2 linked regions of the Homo sapiens genome follow. The protein of the gene in region 1 interacts with the protein of each later gene in a pairwise test. Each region holds a gene or a part of one and is shown on either strand. Other genes may lie near its edges.

Region 1 (9,218 bases):
CCTCCTGAGTAGCTGGGATTACAGGTGCCCACCACCATGCCCGGCTAATTTTTGTATTTTTAGAAGAGATGGGGTTTCACCATATTGGCCAGGCTGGTCTCGAACTCCTGACCTCATGATCTCATTTTAAAGGAAGCTTTTCAAAGTTTCTGTGAGATTTGATAGTAAAAAAATTCTTCCTAAAACTGTTTTAGTTCCATCAAGTTTTATAACATGGACCAATAATTTTAATGAAACACATAATGAGGAATGACACATGAACTTCCTTTTAAAATCAATTATAAATATAATTTAGCTCAGTGACTGATATTCATTGATGTCTGTCTTAGAGGTTAAAGCATCAGGGCAGAAATGCTGCCCCATTATAACAGTTTGCTACCTGTACAGGATTTGTCTTATATGATGTGTTTTGCAACTGCAGTTTCCTGAGTGATGATATAAGATGAGTTCATCATTAGCAGTTCTCAGCCTTCAACCTCCCCAACCTCCACCCCTCAACTTGCTGGGACACATAACAAGCTGTCCACATGAATAGCAAACACTTCTGGGCATAGACAGGGTCATATGAAATTCCTGACAAATGGCCAATTAACCTACACCTTTTTCTGCTCTTCAAGGATGACATCAGAACTTGAGAATGACACAAAGTCCTAACTGATTTTTTAAAAAGGGCATATTTTTTGCCATAATTTGGTACAAACCATCGTTAATAATAACCACAACACACTGCAGTCATGTCCATATTTATAAGGTCTCTTTCTGGCTGAAAATTCACATGGTTTTAAGAATATGTTTTTTTCTTTTTTTTTTTCAAAATGCATAGTTAGAATGTATTAGCTAAAATGTCTCCAATAATACCAAACTACTATGAAACTTCTTCATGATTCTTTCCAGGGAAGAGCGTAGGTTGTATAACATCACAATTTTACTGTAAGTAGTTACATTTGGCCTCCAACACAACCAAATTGAGGCAGTACTGCATTACAATCTATATGCATTCTAAATGCCTGGTATTTACCAAAGGAGGCAGGCCTTTACTTTGAATGTTGCAATAAAAAATACAGTGCCTCATTTTTAAGAGTGATGTAAATATTCATCCAATTAACAACATTTATTAATGTCCACTTTGTACCAGACAGGCACTCTTTTAGGTGCCGAGCTTACAGCAGATAACTACACAAATAAAAATTCATACCTTCATGAGGCTTATATTCTTGTGCTACAGAGTTGTATTTTTTTAATTTTAAAGTGGAAAGAATTCACTTATAAGAATTTCTATTTAATTATTCATAAAGCTACTGGCGAGAAACTATAAGAGATATTCATATCCTAATGCTATGGTTTAAACCCTGATCTCTGAATTAAACTGCAACTTTTAATCCAGGCCCTACCTCTTACCAGTTATTTGTTTCTCAACCTTTCTCTGAGTAATCATAGAACTAGATAATGACCTCATAGTGTTGTGAAGATTAAATAAAATAATCCATGCATCTAGGACATAGTAAGCACTCAATAAATGTTAAATTATACTAAAACTTCTCAAGTAGAAACATCCTACTTTCCTTTAGTAGCTCAGATTTCACTGGGATCCAAAAATCTTTGTATATTCAGCTAGTGGGATATCTTGGTATGACTAAATAATTTTGTATTTGTTATTTAAAAAAAAACAAAACAAATTTAGGCTGGGCACAGTGGCTCACGCCTGTAATTCCAGCACTTTGGGAGTCTGAGACAGGTGGATCACTTGAGGTCAAGAGTTCGAGACCAGCCTGGCCAATGTGGTGAAACCCCGTCTCTACTAAAAATACAAAAATTAGCCGTGTGGTGGTGTGTGCCTGTAATCCCAGCTACTCAGGAGGCTGAGGCAGGAGAATCGCTTGAACCCAAGAGGTGGAGGTTGCAGTGAGCTGAGCTCATACCACTGCACTCTAGCCTGGGTGACAGAGTGAGACTCTACCTCAACTCAACAAAACAAAACAAAACCGGATTTAAATCAATACTCCCACCTATAATACATTTGCAAAATGCATCAATATATGAAAATAATCTTAATATAGAAGCCCAAAATTTATTTTTTTATAGTAGTATTATTTCTGAATCCTTTTGTGTTTGCATAGCCTTCCACAGTGAGGCCCTGGATCACACCAAATGGGTTATCTTAGATACTACTGAATGTAATAAAATAACCTGCAAAACTACACAGGAAGTAGACTAGTATCTTTGTTTCTTTTTTAACTTTTCAGAGCAGGAACAAGTTCACACACCTCCATAGAAGATCTTCCGTCTGACAGTTAGTAACACATGGCCATTTCGAGCAGCAGTTGTCATGAGGTCCAAGACTTGTTTGTGTGATTTCCCTTTAACAGGAATTCCATCAATGCACATTAGTTCATCAGCTGCGCGGAGCCGACCATCTTTCTCAGCTGCTCCCAGGGGAATAATAGCCCCAATATATATCTGATAAGATAACAAAGTACAGTTTGGTCCACAGTGTAAAGTTTAGCTGAAGAGTTAAGGAATTCCTAACTTAGCATTGTGCAAACCAACAGATTTTTGCAGTTCAACTATGAAAACAGTTATATTTTAGAAAGGTATTATCTGAGAAAGTGCCCATTCTCCAAAATGGCACTTCAAATAACCACATTGTATTATGTAATCCCTTATAGATCCTCAGGGCTGTGTACAAAGAAAATAGAAAATACAAAGTTGTTCGATAACTCAAAAAGCACAACCATTATCCCTATCATTACAATGAAACAAAACACTAAACTCAGAAAATATAAATCTGCAGAGTAGCTATTAAAAGTCTGTTCAATGTCATCAGGCAAGATTTTCTACATACTGTTCACAGCAACTGGGATCATTCTCAACAGTACTCCCATCACATATGACTAACGGTACAAGTTCAATATACACAGCACAGAGACATTTCTTGTTTCTAAATCTCAGCGGGAACAGAGTGGCCTGAAGCTTCACTTGCATCTAGGTGAACAAATCTGGTTCATTTTGCTCACCAGCATTAGAATCCTGTAATTAGGCAATCCTGAATGTTTAGGCTAGTTTCAGAGCTGCTAAAATCTGACATTTAAGAGAAAAGAAAGGTTTCTTCTAAGTTGTTTGAGACAAATTCTTAAAATGTCTAAGTGAACATTATGAGTATCAACAAAATAGGAAGCAATAAAACAAAAATACAAATACCAAGAACAATTAAAGTATCTAGTATTTGTTCTACATAGGGCAACCTGCCTTAAGCTTTATGTGTCTCCAATGACTGTTGTAACTGTAACCAATATGACCAATTAGAACAAATTTATACTACATAAATCAAATGTTCTATTCAGAAATAAGAAGCCTGTAATTTTTAAAGATTATTGTTCTTCACCTAACTTCCAACCATATTTTTTGATATATAATATATTGATATTATATAAAATAAAATGCAAATATGTTCTTAAAAATGCTACAGAACACATTACTTCTTTGTTATTCAAACCAAGAGCAAAACTTAGAAACAAAACCCACTACATTTGTTCTCTAAAACAAGTTTATGTGAGAATCATGTGTAAACAAAATCCTAGACTTCAAATGCTTTGCAAATATAACCCTTATGCCTCTGGACAAAAATATTAATTATTTTATATTCCTCTAGTTTCAAAGGTAACAGATGAAATGACATGCAAAGTACTGAGCATGAAAATGCCAACCTATTAATAAGACGAGGTGAAACAATATGCACAGGCTCATGCCAACCATTTATGGAGCATCCAGAAGATAGAGTAATAGTGGGAAAGAGGACATGGGATTATAGGCTTCTTAGAGAAGGAAAATGTCTTAGACTCTGTTTAATGAGGGCAAAGGAAAATATAAACTTAAAATAAGCTTTATGTAGTTATTCACACAGAGAAGTAAATAAATTAATCACTGTCTAATTTGCAGCTGACATATTCAGTTTTTACCCACAGTTTTTAGCCTCAGCTACACCACAATAACTGAGGGACTATGATAATAATGGAAATGCAGTTATTCTTCATATTAATGAAACTGTCAGAGAAAAAAAAACTTAAAACACACCATAATCCACCAAATCACCACTCAAAACGTTTGAACAGGAAACAGCCATGTTCCAAAGAAGTGACACTTACAGACTGGTCAGGTCCATCTCCTCCTAGCACCCTGAAGCCAAACCCTGACTCTTGTTTTCGAAGAAAAACATCCAAATCTTTGGTGTTTGGTGCTGAGGAAAATCAGAAAATATAAATACTATGATTTATTTTAAAAGGATTAAAACAAAACAAAGTTCAGTATTTAGTAGGATATTATAGAGTAACTCAATAAACTATAATCTCAGAACTTTTTAATATGGAAAATTTGCACAAGAGTGTAACACACACACACAATTCAACTATAAATCCTCGTTTTGAGCTCTAAACAAAACTGTATGAAGACTGTTTAGAAACATTTACTCTCACTTCCATATACTCAGTATTACACTGCCATTAACTTCTAATGCTGTCCAATCAATATAACAATGTTGAATTCAGAATGATCAAACTTGAGTTTGATATTTGACAGGTGCAAATGACCTAAGTTAACACTTGGGTAAGGTACATTAAATCTGTACAGGCACTGCTGTATAGAGTGCCTGTAAAATACCTTATTCCTGCTCTCAAGCTAATACCTTTCTCTCAGAAAAGTATTCCATATGAACTACTTACCTAGCCTAGTTTTGCAAAATGATAGCATTTTAAAGGAAAATAATTAAGAGCTAACATTTATTATTAGCCCCATTTTCTAGGTGGGAAAACTGAGGGTGTAAGTAAGTTGGCCATTGTCACATAGCAAGTGGTGAAGCTAAGATTTAAATCCAGGTTGATTTCCAGGGTCTAATCTCCTAACTCATACTGTCCTACCCTCAAAGGGTAGGTTGTATTCCTTAGAATATTAAGCAGGAGGATTGCTTGAACCTGGGAGGCAGAGGTTGCAGTGAACTGAGATCGTGCCACTGCATTCCAGCCTGGGCAACAGAGCAAGACTCCATCTCAAAAAAAAAAAAAAAGAATATTAAGTCACAAAAATCTATTTCATGACTAAAATTTTTCCTTTGGGAAAATATTAATGTTATTTATAGGTAAGAAGTATTTACTGTAAAGAGAGAAGAAATAAACATGTCAGGGAACTATGTAAAAAGTGAGATTAGTAAATTCCTGATAATATTCTATAGAAGCAGTATCTTTTGATATATACTTCCTATTAAAATTGTAGAACTTTAGAGATTAAAAGAGTCCACTTTGGGAGGCCGAGGTGGGCGGATCACGAGGTCAGGAGTTTGAGACCAGCTTGACTAACATGGTGAAACCCCGTCTCTACTAAAAATGCAAAACTTAGCCAGTCATGGTGGCATACGCCTGTAGTGCCAGCTACTCAGGAGGCTGAGGCAGGAGAATTGCTTGAACCTAGGAGGCAGAGGTTTCAGTGAGCTGAGATTGTGCCACTGCACTCCAGCTCCGGGTGACAGAGCAAGACTCTGTCTCAGGGGAAAAAAAAAAAAAGAGTCATCAGTTCAACTCACTTATTTTATGGGTGAAGCCTGATGGGACTGCAGAGTTTATACCAGTATTAATAATGTATCAGGCTATGAATGGAAAGTATGAAGAAAGGGATTCTACATTGTTATGCTAATTTAAATTATTGCTTTGCTGGGCGTACAACTGGTTTTCATCTTTCTGAATATGGCTTGGGATTATCAAGATGTACTTCTGCAACTAGTTAAATAAGCATTAAGTCAACTATACATATATTCCACTTGTACATATCTTTTCCAAGGTAGATTTACATCTCTTTCTAAGAACAAATAAATTTTAAAAAATTATACCTACTCAAATCTGCAATTTTACTTTGGAAAAGATTTATCATTAGTAAGTGAATTAGTAGGAACATGCATGAATTTCTGCCTTATGCAGTCTCTCTTTTTATCTCTCAGCTGGACTCCTGTAAGGAGTCAACTCTTTAGTTTCTTCTTCAAATTGCACACCCTCCCTCAAATTGCATACACCTCTGATTCATCCTTCATACTCCTGCCAGAAAAACCTTTCTAAAACACAAAACTATGCCTTCCTTATAGTTAAAGGCATTCTGTGGTTCTCTGTTATTTATATGACCAACTCCAGCTCCCTTGGAAGGGCATCATTGGCCTTCCTCAATCTGTTCCTGCTCTCCTCTGTGACTTTCCTTGCCAATTGCACCCAGCGAAAGTGAACTACTTGCAGAGCCCAAGTCATGCAAGGCCAGTGTGCATGTGCTATTCCTTCTATCTTTCCCTTTTATCTTCCTCAAAGACACTTTTTCATCCCTGATGACTTAGTTAAAGCTTTGCTTCCAGTATGAAGCTTTTCCTGACACTTCCTACTGCCCACACTGATAAAACTGAATATTCCTTCTTTGGATCCCAATTTATCCATTTCATCTTTCTATCACTGTACCTGTTAGGCTTATTATGTGTACTTATTTGTATACTATTTGATTACATATTTGTCTTTTTCCATTTAGTTCTAATAATATTTTTGGGTGCAGGTCCTATGTAACCTATTTATCTCTGTATTCTGGTTACCTAGTATGGCATCTGGTAGATAACTAGCACTTAAAGCATGATTTTGAAAAAAATGAATGTGTGAATGTCGAATATACATGGAAGAAGTCCAGAGTTCTATTAAAATGGTAATGAAGGAATAACTTTTCAATATGCTTCTGAAAGATGGGAAGGTCCTAGTCTAAAATAAATCCAAATTTATCTTGTTATATGCTCTCCTGAAATATTCCACAACTACTTACGTTTATCTTCATATAAAGTCTTAGATTTCAGGTAGACCTCAGAAGGATCCAATTTTGGGGATCCTGACCTGATAATGCTCGGTGGAAAAGGCATAGGCTGAGGAATAGGCTCATTTATGGCCTCCAAACTTCCTGCATTTTCCTTTTTATCTGTTTTCTGAAATGGAAAAGAGCCTTACTTAGTATTTTTTAAAAAGCAGATGGTTGATTAATTCATAAAACTGATATCTGAAATGGATATGTCAACTGATTATAGTTGTATAGGTGGCAGGATCAAAGACACAGCAGATTTACAGTTACAGGAATTCATTTTCATAGCAATGTGTATTTGGTTGAAACATATTTAACTTAAATTAGAAAAAAGTTTATAGTAATATCAACTGAAGAGCCTTAGTTAGTCCTATGTTTAAACAATTTTGCCCTTTTCTCCACCACCAAGACACAAATTGACTTTGAGATGAAGATAAATAGAAATACAATACAAGGCAGCACTTCTAAGTAAAGTAAGAGGGAGATTCAGAGAATATCTTCATAAAATTCTTAGCACGGCCCACCTCCCATTCACTGAGTTTAATTTCTAAGGAAGATGTTTAAGATAATACTCTTTCTAAGAAAACAGGAGAGGTTAACTCTAATTTAGGTTATAAAGATGGCACTGTGAAAACCCTGTCTGGCCAATTCACATATATTAAGAGAAAATGTACCATGCAAGACAATTAGATAAGGGAAAGCATAGTAGCATATTTTGATATTTTTCCTATTCAGCTAGAACTTTCCCAAGATAACAGCCAAGCAAAATGACTTATTTAATAAAATGTTAACAATGAAATCCAATAAATGGCCTAAGAAATATGGTTTTGAGACCAGCTCGTTTTCCTGGATTATTGTTAGGAGAGGGAGATTATGGATGTTTGTGATCATTAACAATGACTAGAATGCAGGGGCACCAGTCTGTCAGGGAGTAATCAGGGGTCAGCCACTACAAAGTGTCGTGCTAGAGGGGACCCTTCAATCACCCAGACCCAATGAGAAGGCAGAGAAGCTAACAGTAGTCTCCTACCCTTCCCCATACATCTTAGCATTCTGTCAGAGGCGGTTAAAGTTCATCAGACCCTTCCATCAATTATAAAGCATTAGGGCCACTGCGACTGCAGTGGCATCCATTATGAAATAAATATGGTGGCACAGGAGTTAAAAATGATTACTAGAGGAACCAGAGAAATGTAGAATACAGTGCAATTTGAACTGAATGGACAAAAACAATTTCTGTTCACACTGGACCCAAGTAGTATAAGCAGTCAATGAAAAGGGCAGAAGCTGGCCGGGCGCAGTGGCTCATGCCTGTAATCCCAGCACTTTGGGAGGCCGAGGTGGGCAGATCACCTGAGGTCAGGAATTTGAGACCAGCCTAGCCAATGTAGTGAAACTCCATCTCTACCAAAAATATAAAAATTAGCTGCGTGTGGTGGCGTGCACCTGTAATTCCAGCTACTGGGAGGCTAAGGCACAAGAATTGCTTGAACCTAGGCGGCAGAGGCTGCAGTGAGCCAAAATCACACCACTGCATTCCAGCCTGGGTGATGGAGTGAGACTCTGTCTCAAAAAAAAAAAAAAAAAAAAGGCCAGAAGCTGAGGGATTCTTTTTAATCTATAAAACAGCAAATTTGCAGAGGATTCCTACTTGGTGGGCTAGAAAGAACTAATTCATTTAATATAATTGTCTATAGTTTATGGTTATGGAAGGCCATCTTTTGATTTTGAGATAAAAGACTCCAAAGGAGCAAACTAGAACTAAATTAGAATTTTAAATAAAATTGTCTTTATATCCAAAACATTGTGGATATTTAAATAGCTACAAATGTGCACCTTGTAGAGTTTCTTCCACAACAGCAGCATTTGATGCACTCCTTTTTAAAGTTCTTATTCTCTGCACAGGTCCTTAAACAGGCTACGTGATTATTTAGAAGAATGCCAAAGAAGACACTGTTTCAGGTCTTTCACTTTGACAACAAGCAAATTTAGCATAGAAGGCCACAATTACTCTAGAAAGTCTTGTTTAGTCAGCCGGACGTGGTGTATCATGCCTGTAATCCCAGCACTTTGGGAGGCCGAGGCGGGCAGATCATGAGGTCAAGAGATTGAGACCATCCTAGCCAACATGGTGAAACCCTGTCTCTACTAAAAATACAAAAAAATTAGCTGGGTGTGGTGGCGTGCACCTGTAGTCCCAGCTACTTGGGAGGCTGAGGCAGGAGAATCGCTTGAACCCCGGAGGCGGAGGTTGCAGTGAGCCGAGATAGCGCCACTGCACTCCAGCCTGGGCGACAGAGCAAGACTCCGTCTCAAAAAATAAATAAATAAATAAAAAATAAATAATAAAAAAATAAGCC
Region 2 (9,218 bases), on another chromosome or scaffold:
GTTATAATTTGTGTTTTGAGAACAGTCCTATCCTGCAGCATCAACAAGGGTATCAATCTCCAGGCTGCAGTGCAAGACCACTTCATTTATTCAAAATCGAGTAGCCACATGTATTGTTAAGAATACATGATACATACGTATGCCTCAAGCATGTTTTTGGTGCAAAAAATGTCAAGTGCATTCTACCTAATAACACAGATTTACGTCATCTTTCTCTCTTAGCACTTTCATTTCATCATCATTTGTTACAGTCACATACCCCTGTGATGTAGGGTTGGGTGGTGACAAAGATTTTGTGTTTTATCTCTATTTTCTAAATAAAGAAAAGTTACTTAAGTAACTTTTCCAAAGCCATGCAGTGTATGAGCTTTCTTAATCTATGTGTAGTAGCCTAGTTCTTCTCAAATTTTAATTAATCAAAGATGTTACATAACTTTTTATTCTAGGTGTCTCTAATATGGCACCACTGCCCTGAATCCAACCCCTATAACCCACTAACTAGTTACGAAAGGCCATGCTGTAGTTCAACTCACATCTTAAGGGAGAAAGTTCCATTTTTAAAGCTACAGCATGAGAGCTTCTGATCTGTTTCACAAACCAGTCTCTTCATTTTTCATTTCAGTTCTGTGTGCCTCACTTCTGATTTCTTCAAATTCAGAGGGTAGAAAGCAATCTCAGAAAGTGCTTAACTCAGTCAGTGTGCAGCCACCCAGAGACCTCCGGAGGAAAATGACAAGCACCAGCTTCAGACAGTGAAGGGAAAGGAAAGCCACGTGCAAATCTGGAATCATCTGCCATTAGCAAAGGTAGAAAATTATAGAGGAACTCTTTGGGGTCACAAGGATGTCATTTAGACCTCCGCAGCAGAAATTTTTTAAATAGTACCCTTCTGGATTCAATGATTTCACCTGCTTGCTCAAGTGCCTAATTTAGAACCAGCAAGCAAATTACAATCTACAGAGTCCAGGCATGAAATTATAAATGTTTGGTTTCTCATGGTCTAGATCTATCTATGTCTTCAAACCAGGGCTGAGAACAAAACCCCCCAATTTTCCCCAACAAAGATCCACCTGACATTCTGACATTTTGCAATATTCATGTATTCAGTCATTCATTCTTGCACACACTCATTTATCAAATTTGGGGGCTCTCAGATACATACCACCATGCATAATGTGAAGAGCAGCTCAGGCTCCTCGCAGAACAGAGCAAGGATGGTTTCCGAAGTTAGGAGACATGGAGAAAGCTGACTAAGATAAGCAAGGGCCCCCAATGCCTGGATGACTAGTTATCTGCTTTTCTTTATCATGCAGACTCGGCCCCTCAATGTTATTTAGAGCAAATATCAAATATTTTTATACAATCGTATGTTCTCTCTGCATTTACAACCTATGTCTTTTTTTTTTTTTGAGATGGAGTCTCGCTGTGTTGCCCAGGCTGTAGTGCAAGTGCATGATCACAGCTCACTGCAACCTTCGCCTCCTGGGTTGAGGTGATTCTCCTGCCTCAGCCTCCTGAGTAGCTGGGATTACAGACGCCCACCACCACACCTGGCTCATTTTTGCATTTTTTTAGTAGAGATGGGGTTTCACCATGTTGGCCAGGCTGGTCTCAAATTCCCGACCTCAAGTGATCTGCCCGCCCAGGCCTCCCAAAGTGCTGGGATTAGCATGAGCCACCACACCCAGACCCACCTGTCTACCTCTTTACTAATTTTTATTCAGCCTTATTTGCTTAGGTTTCACTTGGTATCTATTTGCTCTTTCAACAGAGTCTCTACTTAGATATTTCTGAAAAATTTTTCATGAATTGAACTTTGATACATTACAGCAGCTCACTCATCATATAATCCTTATGCAAAGTGAAGAATCCTCTTTGATGTGAACAGTCACCCCATATGGGTTTGCCAAGTTCACTTCTTTCTTTTTTTTTTTTTTTTTTTTTTTTTAGACAGCGTCTCGCTCTATTGCCCAGGCTGGAGTGCAGTGGCACAATCTTGGCTCACTGAAACCTCTGCCTCCTGGGTTCCAGTGATTCTCCTGCCTCAGCCTCCCGAGTAGCTGGGATTACAGGCACGCACCACCATGCCTGGCTAATTTTTGTTTTTGTATTTTTAGTAGAGAGGGGGTTTTACCATGCTGGCCAGGGCGCTCTTGAACTCCTGATCTCATGATCCGCCTACTCTGTCCTCCCAAAGTGCTGGAACTACAGGTGTGAGCCACTGCGCCCGACCAAGTTCACATTTTCATATGCTAACTTTCTCAAGCTAGGGCCACCTGTACATAAAGGAACAAAACAGCTGGAAAATAGAGTGGATTTGGCTAGGAATTTAAGCATGTTACACTGAAATAACTTTAGCTTTCAATTCTTAGTAAATTCTTCTCAATACATTTCTTTTAAATGTAAATGTCTTATCATATTTCATTTTTGTAAGGTGACTTATGAGTTATTTCTATTTTATGATGTCAAGTTACTGCAATGACCCAAAGTACTACAGTAAAATATCCCTAGAATATTTCGTATTGAGTGCTATGAAGTGGAGACTATTCTCCATTAGCCAGGCAATAGCCATAAAAACTTTTATTCTTTTCCCTTTCTCTTTCTTTCAAATTTTAAGCTATTACCTTTAGAGGTAATGAGTCTGATCATGAACTCACTCCCTCTCTGCTGTTTAATGAACCCCCTCATGGTTTTAGGACAGCAGTGAACCCTTGACATCTATTTACCTTCCATTATAATTTCACATCACAGTAACTGTTACTAGAAACGTAAACATAACCATGGAGTTTTTTAAACCCCAGCACATCTATTAAAATGAAATTTACCTTAAAATTCATGAAACACACAAGGTATATATCATGATTCATGTAAAACACAACATGTCGTGTAAGTTAATATAATCATTCTGAAGTAAATTAGATGTTGTTCACATTAGAGTATTTATTATGTTGGAATTTCCATGTTACTAACTGTTCAAATATTGCCATGTCAATGTTATTTCCCTAAAAGTAGAAATATTCATTTGAATGTACTAAATATACATTTACAAAAATGGCTTTTAGCCATCATGCTACTAACATCAGAAGAAAAGACTATGTCGAGTCATTTAAGCAGTCAAAGATGCGAAAGCAAAATTTGGTGATGTTTCAACTTTCAATTTTTCAGTTTTCAAATACTACAATTTTTCCATTTCCAATCGCAGTTTTACAGAATACCAGGAAGAATTTCAAATTACCCAAAATTGCTTTTTATTTCACTTATTATAATACATTCTAGTACCCTCTACCTCCTAGTAGCTGCTTTTATTATTCTAGTGATGCACACACTAGAAAACGTTTCCTACTGAAATGTTTTCAATCAGATGCTGCCTACCAAAATGAATGGAAAACCATGTGCCATATGAAAAACTTCGAGAGTAAATATAAGAGTGATGGACTCCCACCGGGAGCAGAAAGCCAAAATCACACTTCATAAATATACTTATCTGGGAAGAAAAAACACTGGTTAGACAATATTTAGGACAGATGTATCTTGTTGCACATCAAAACAATCTGTGGACAACACCACAACACTGCGATGCAATTTTACAAGGGAAGCTGGTTGGGCATTTCTGTATTTATTCAACTAGATAATAGAGGGGAAAGCCGCAGAACAGTCAGAAGAATATTTGCAATGCAATTAGGGGGAACAAGTGCATCTGAGTGAGCGCCAGACACAGGGGCCTCCCCTTAATTCACACAGTCCAATGTTTTAATGCAGCGTACAGCAGCAAACTGAACTTCCTACAGTTTTAAAACTTTTGTCAGTTAACTAGATGTTTACCAAGTGCCTCGCTTGGGCACTCAACATTTCGGGTGTGCCATCCAGCTCTATGTAGGTTGTTCCAACACCATCTGTCACTTAAGCTTCCACAGATTCACAAATTTCAATTCGAACTAATCTACTCGGCACTCAAACTGAAGCTATAATTCAAATTTCAACATGAAGCTTGAATTCCTTTTCAGTGTTCTTCAACTTTGACCCAGCTCCCCCCTCCCTTCACTGAAAAGGGCCAAGACAACAGCCCAGCAAGTGGGGCAGGCAAAACAGGCCTCCTTTGTTCACTTTTGTCCTTTCAGCTCTCTATTGAGGTAAGGGACTGAAAAGGCACACCAGGTTTTGGAAGGCAGCAGCGGACTCGCTCGCAAGCCATCCTTCCTCAAAGAACCAAAAAACTCCAGGACAAAACTCTTTGGACAGGCCACTCTTACCTTAAGGCATAATTAATGGGAGATTAGTACTTCCCCTTTCCCTTGAGAGAGAATCTGTTAGTGGTGTTGAATATGAGTCTGTAAATGTTCATCAAAAATGCATGCCATAAATCATGCCATTCAAATGCCAAGGACATCAAAAAGTGGCATGAAATTAGCTTTAAAGTTGAAATTTGGAGAAAAGATCACTACATGCTGAATACTCATACTGAATTTTTTGAATGCTCTCAGCCCACTTGAGAAAGATAAATCAAATTCATTGCATATTACCCAGTGGAAGACCTCCTACAGGATTCCCTCAGATTGCCCTAGAAATAGATTTTTTTTTTTTCTGGTTACAGTGGGTTTTGAACCAACACACTATGCACATAATAAAATTTAAACATATATATATATTCAACATATATATATTCAAAATATAGTTTCCAGCCCTTCCTACCATTATTTAATGAGAAGAATTTCAAAAGGATCATTTTTGCCTGACAGTACCTGTCATTTTCATTCTCATGTGAATTAAACCATGTTTTAGTCCAGGGCAATATGGAAGAAATTCGGAGAGCACATAATACAAGTAAGATTCATCATTCCTGTGTTCGAACTGAATATGCCATTAGGACAGTATGTGAGTACAGGAGCATTAGTGGTTATAATTTGTTCCCTTTACCACTGGCTTTTTTTTTTTTTTATCTTCACTAGCTTCTTAGTCACTTGATGGAAACCCTCCATCAGACTGTTAAAAATTACCTTTTTCTAATTTGAAATTCCAATCTTGTAGGCCAGTAAAATAGGTCAATTAAGTTGACACCACATCTTTTTTATTAGCTCAGCTAAGCAATTATAATTGGGTGGTGAAGGTTTATGCTGTCATCTTGGAAGATTCAATGGTAGGGAGAAATGCCCAATGTGGAACTATAATTTACAATGCCAGTACATCCCTAAACATTCAGCATAAGAATATTTCTATTTTCAGATATGAGGCAAATTTGCTCTTGTTCTAGATTAAAATAATAATGCCATTTTTTGGCAGTAAAAAAAGCATATTTATTTAACTTATCCTCATAGCAAAATCATTTAGCACAAGTGTATTACAGACATAGGTACTTTAATTCAACATTTTAGAAAAATACCATGAATGTATGCCATCAATGCTGGCTTATCCTGGACTTGGACTACAACACATATGCTCCACAACATCAATTTCTTGCTTTGCACAAAGTATGTAATCAATTAATACTTGTTGAAAACCATATACCTCCATATTAATAAATGTTAAACCAATAAATTAGAAATGCTGTGAATGACTTGTTCAGAATATATAGATATTAATTTACAGCTTTAAAAGATAACAGTGGCTGGGCGTGGTGACTCACGCTTGTAATCTCAGCACTTTGGGAGGCCAAGGTGGATGTATCACCTGAGGTCAGGGGTTGAAGACCAGCTTGGCCAACCTGGTAAAACCCTGTCTCTACTAAAAATACAAAAATTAGCTGGGCATGGTGGCAGGTGCCTGTAATCCCAGGTAATCAGGTGGCTGAGGCAGGACAATCACTTGAACCAGGGAGGCAGAGGTTGCAGTGAGCCGAGACTGCAGCATTGCACTCCAGCCCAAGTGACAGGGCGAGACTCCGTCTCCAAAAAAAAAAAAACAAAGAAAGAAAAAAAAAGTAACAGTGATTGCACTTCAAACCTATTAGGATGGCTATTATCAAGAAAACAGAAAATAACAAGTGTTGGAGAAAATGTGGACAAACTGGAACCCCTGCGCATTGTTGGCAGAAATGTAAAATGGTACAGCTACTATGGAAAAGAGTATAACGATGTCTCAAAAAAAAATAGAACTACCATATGATCTAGCAGTCTCATTTCTGGGTATATACCCCAGAGAATTGAAAGCAGTGACTCAGATATTTGTACATCCATGTTCATGGCAGCATCATTTGCAATAGCCAAAAGATGAAAGTAACCCAAGTATATATGACATATGAATGGATAAACAAAATGTGGCATATACATACAATGAAATATTATTCAGCATTACAAAGGAAGGAAATTCTGACACATGGATCAACCTTGAAGGCACTATGGTAAGCAAAATAAACCAGTTACAGAAAGACAAATAAATACTGTATGATTCCACTCATATGAGGTACTTAGGGTCATCAGATTCATAGACTGGAAGTAGGATGTTTGTTGCCAGGGGCTGGGGGCTGAGGGGTTATGAACTATTGTTTAATGTGTACAGAGTTACAATTTGGGAAGGCAAAAAATGTTCTGGAGAGGTATAGTGGTGATGGCTGCACACAATGTGAATGTACTTAATGCCACTGAAGTATACACTTAGAAATAGTTTAATGGCATATCTTATGTCATATATATTTTACAATAAAAAACTTAGCAAAAACATTTTTTAAATAAACATATTGCATTTGCTGCCCCATTTAAAGACAACCTGATAATGAAGGATTTACAGTTGCTGACGCTGAAGGCTGAGCCATTCCCCTATTTCCTTCCTCAGGTAGCCTTCAATTTTAAGAGAAAAAATAAAAATTTGTCAATTCATTTTGGTACATCTTCCTATTCTTAGAAACTTCAGTCAAACTCATAGAAGCAGAGAGTAGAATGGTGATTGCTAGTGGGTAGGGGAATTGGGGAGATGAGATGTTCTCACCACACATACACAAATTAACTGTGTGAGGTGATAGATGTGTTTATTAGTTTGATTGTGGTAATCATTTCACAATGTATACATATATCAAAATATCATGTTGTACATATTAAATGTATACAACTTTTACTTGTCAATTATATCTCATTAATGCTGTGGGGGGGGGAAGAAACTTCAGCCTTTGATCCCAATAGAGGCTGTTTTAAACAGAAGGAGCTTTTCATTTGCCAAGGCAGTAAAATGTTTAAGTAAAATAAGTCACTGGATTTTTGCCCTTAGCATCCAGTTCTCTCCTCTGTCCTCACCTGCCAGGAAGGTTCCTGGAAGGGATGCTTCAGGTAGGGAAGCATAAAATTTTAAGGGAAAAGCATATCTAAATGTATTTAGTAATTTTCAAATCACTTCCTCTTCATCAATCATTGCAACAGCTGAAGACTGAAGTAAAGCAGTCTTTTGATTCAAATGCACAAAACTTCCTAAAGAATATGTTAGAAGCTCTACATTCCAGTTAAATTTGCTATGGGTTACCGAGCTTCTCAGATGGTAGGTACTCTTTGAAAATGAGGATGAGATTCCAATAGCTGCTGATCTATGGTGAGAATATAAGGAAAAAGCCTCAGTGCCTCAGTGGTTACCCTTTGGGGTGAGTAATGACTGGAAGGGACCACAAGAGGGCTTTCTCAGATGTGCATTACACTGTTCCTTGATCTGAGTGCTAGTTAAGTCAATGTGTTCAGTTTGTGCAAGTTCATCGGCTATGCATTTGTGATATGTGAAAAAAACTCTGTGTGATGAAGTATGTAGCTAGATGATAAAATTAGAATTAATCTTCCCAAGGACAGATATTCTGTTTGGTCACCACTGTATCCCCACTGCCTGGAACACAGTAAATATTTATTAAAGAATGAAGGAATGAATGAATGAAATCTTTTTAACGGAAAAGCTTCCTGTAGAGTTCCATTCAACAGCTCCTATGTACATACACAATATAATATCTGTAGAGTCTATTTATATTCAATCTGTTACACAGGGAAAATTACACCTGCATGAAAGCATTATTTGAAATGATTCTTGAAATTTTCTACAGCCCAGGTGTATACATTCTCAGGACCCCCTCACACTTCTGAAGCACTTACACCTAGCGATTATTGCCATCATTGTTGTATTGGCCTCACAGGAAGTACTATTTCCAAAGATGCTTTGCTTTCTATTCACTGTTACCGTAGCATTAACAAAAATGATGTGGTGTAAGGGCAATGGCCTTCAGTCCAAAGACCTCATCACTACCCTGCATTACGAGGCTGAGCCCTATTGCAGTTGTTTTGAAACTCGAAGGATTAGTTAGATACAATGTTGCCTGAGTCCTCTAACAGCTCTAAAATTCCTGGATTATGTAAAATGTTTAGCAACTTTCCTGTAATAAAGTAAAAAGAAGGTTGAAACAAGACTATGAGTCAGTAGGATTATGAATGCAAAATAAATCAATTTTTCCAATTGATCAGTTAATTATAATTCTAAAAGCTATTCCAGAAATAGCTGATTCCACTTTGGTTCAAATTTTCCTTTTTTACTAGTTAACATGGAGCATCTTCATAAATGCCCCCACATGTTTCTATATATTTAGGAAATAGAATGATTTCCTAAGATTGGATGCTAGGGTCCTATTCAAACTCAACATCCAATTTGAGGAGTAACTCATTTGCAGTCAAAACCGTGTACAAAGGACATTCAGGGCTGGGGACCTTTTCTTTAAAGAAAAAAAAGTTTTATGAAACTTTATGATGTGCCAGGAACATCTATGTAATCACAGAGGCCCTGGTTACTAAGAACATGTTGTTCAGTGACTGTAATGGGTTGGATTGTGGGTTAACAGCCACGTACTTAAAAGCTAACAGGAATAAAAGAATATGTAAAGGAGTTACATGGGAATAAAAGGCTATTCCACAATACAGTTCTCTGAATCACAATATTGCCTGCTACTGTGAGTTCTGCAGAGCTCCGAATTAAATGGGCTTGTAATGTATCTCCCTGGTTTTGAACACTCAGTGGTTTAGGTTTCCCCTAAACTGATAAGCCTCCAAAAGGCCACAGTCTCAGTCTTGGATTGTAAAGCACAAGGACAAAAACAATCCCACTCCCCTACTTCCTAGCTGTGTGGCCTTGGGAAAGTTACTTGGTTTCTCTAAGCCTTCATTTCCTAATTTTTAAAATGGGGTTGCTGTGAGAATTAAATGAGATGATACATGTAACATGCGCAGCGCCCAGCACATCTAAAGCTCTCAAAACCGGTTGGCTATCGTTAC

Evidence for each region.
Region 2: the proteins of MAGI3 (region 1) and NRCAM interact in a two-hybrid assay, tested with the Homo sapiens proteins (one study listed by BioGRID and IntAct).

The regions. Positions count from the first base shown.
Region 1 is NC_000001.11:113,644,253-113,653,470, reverse strand, and holds part of MAGI3 (membrane-associated guanylate kinase, WW and PDZ domain-containing protein 3), read right to left. Parts: intron 6,986-9,218; coding exon 6,829-6,985; intron 4,235-6,828; coding exon 4,143-4,234; intron 2,458-4,142; coding exon 2,265-2,457; intron 1-2,264.
Region 2 is NC_000007.14:108,445,337-108,454,554, forward strand, and holds part of NRCAM (neuronal cell adhesion molecule isoform A precursor), read right to left. Parts: intron 1-9,218. UniProt on the Homo sapiens protein: Cell adhesion protein that is required for normal responses to cell-cell contacts in brain and in the peripheral nervous system. Plays a role in neurite outgrowth in response to contactin binding.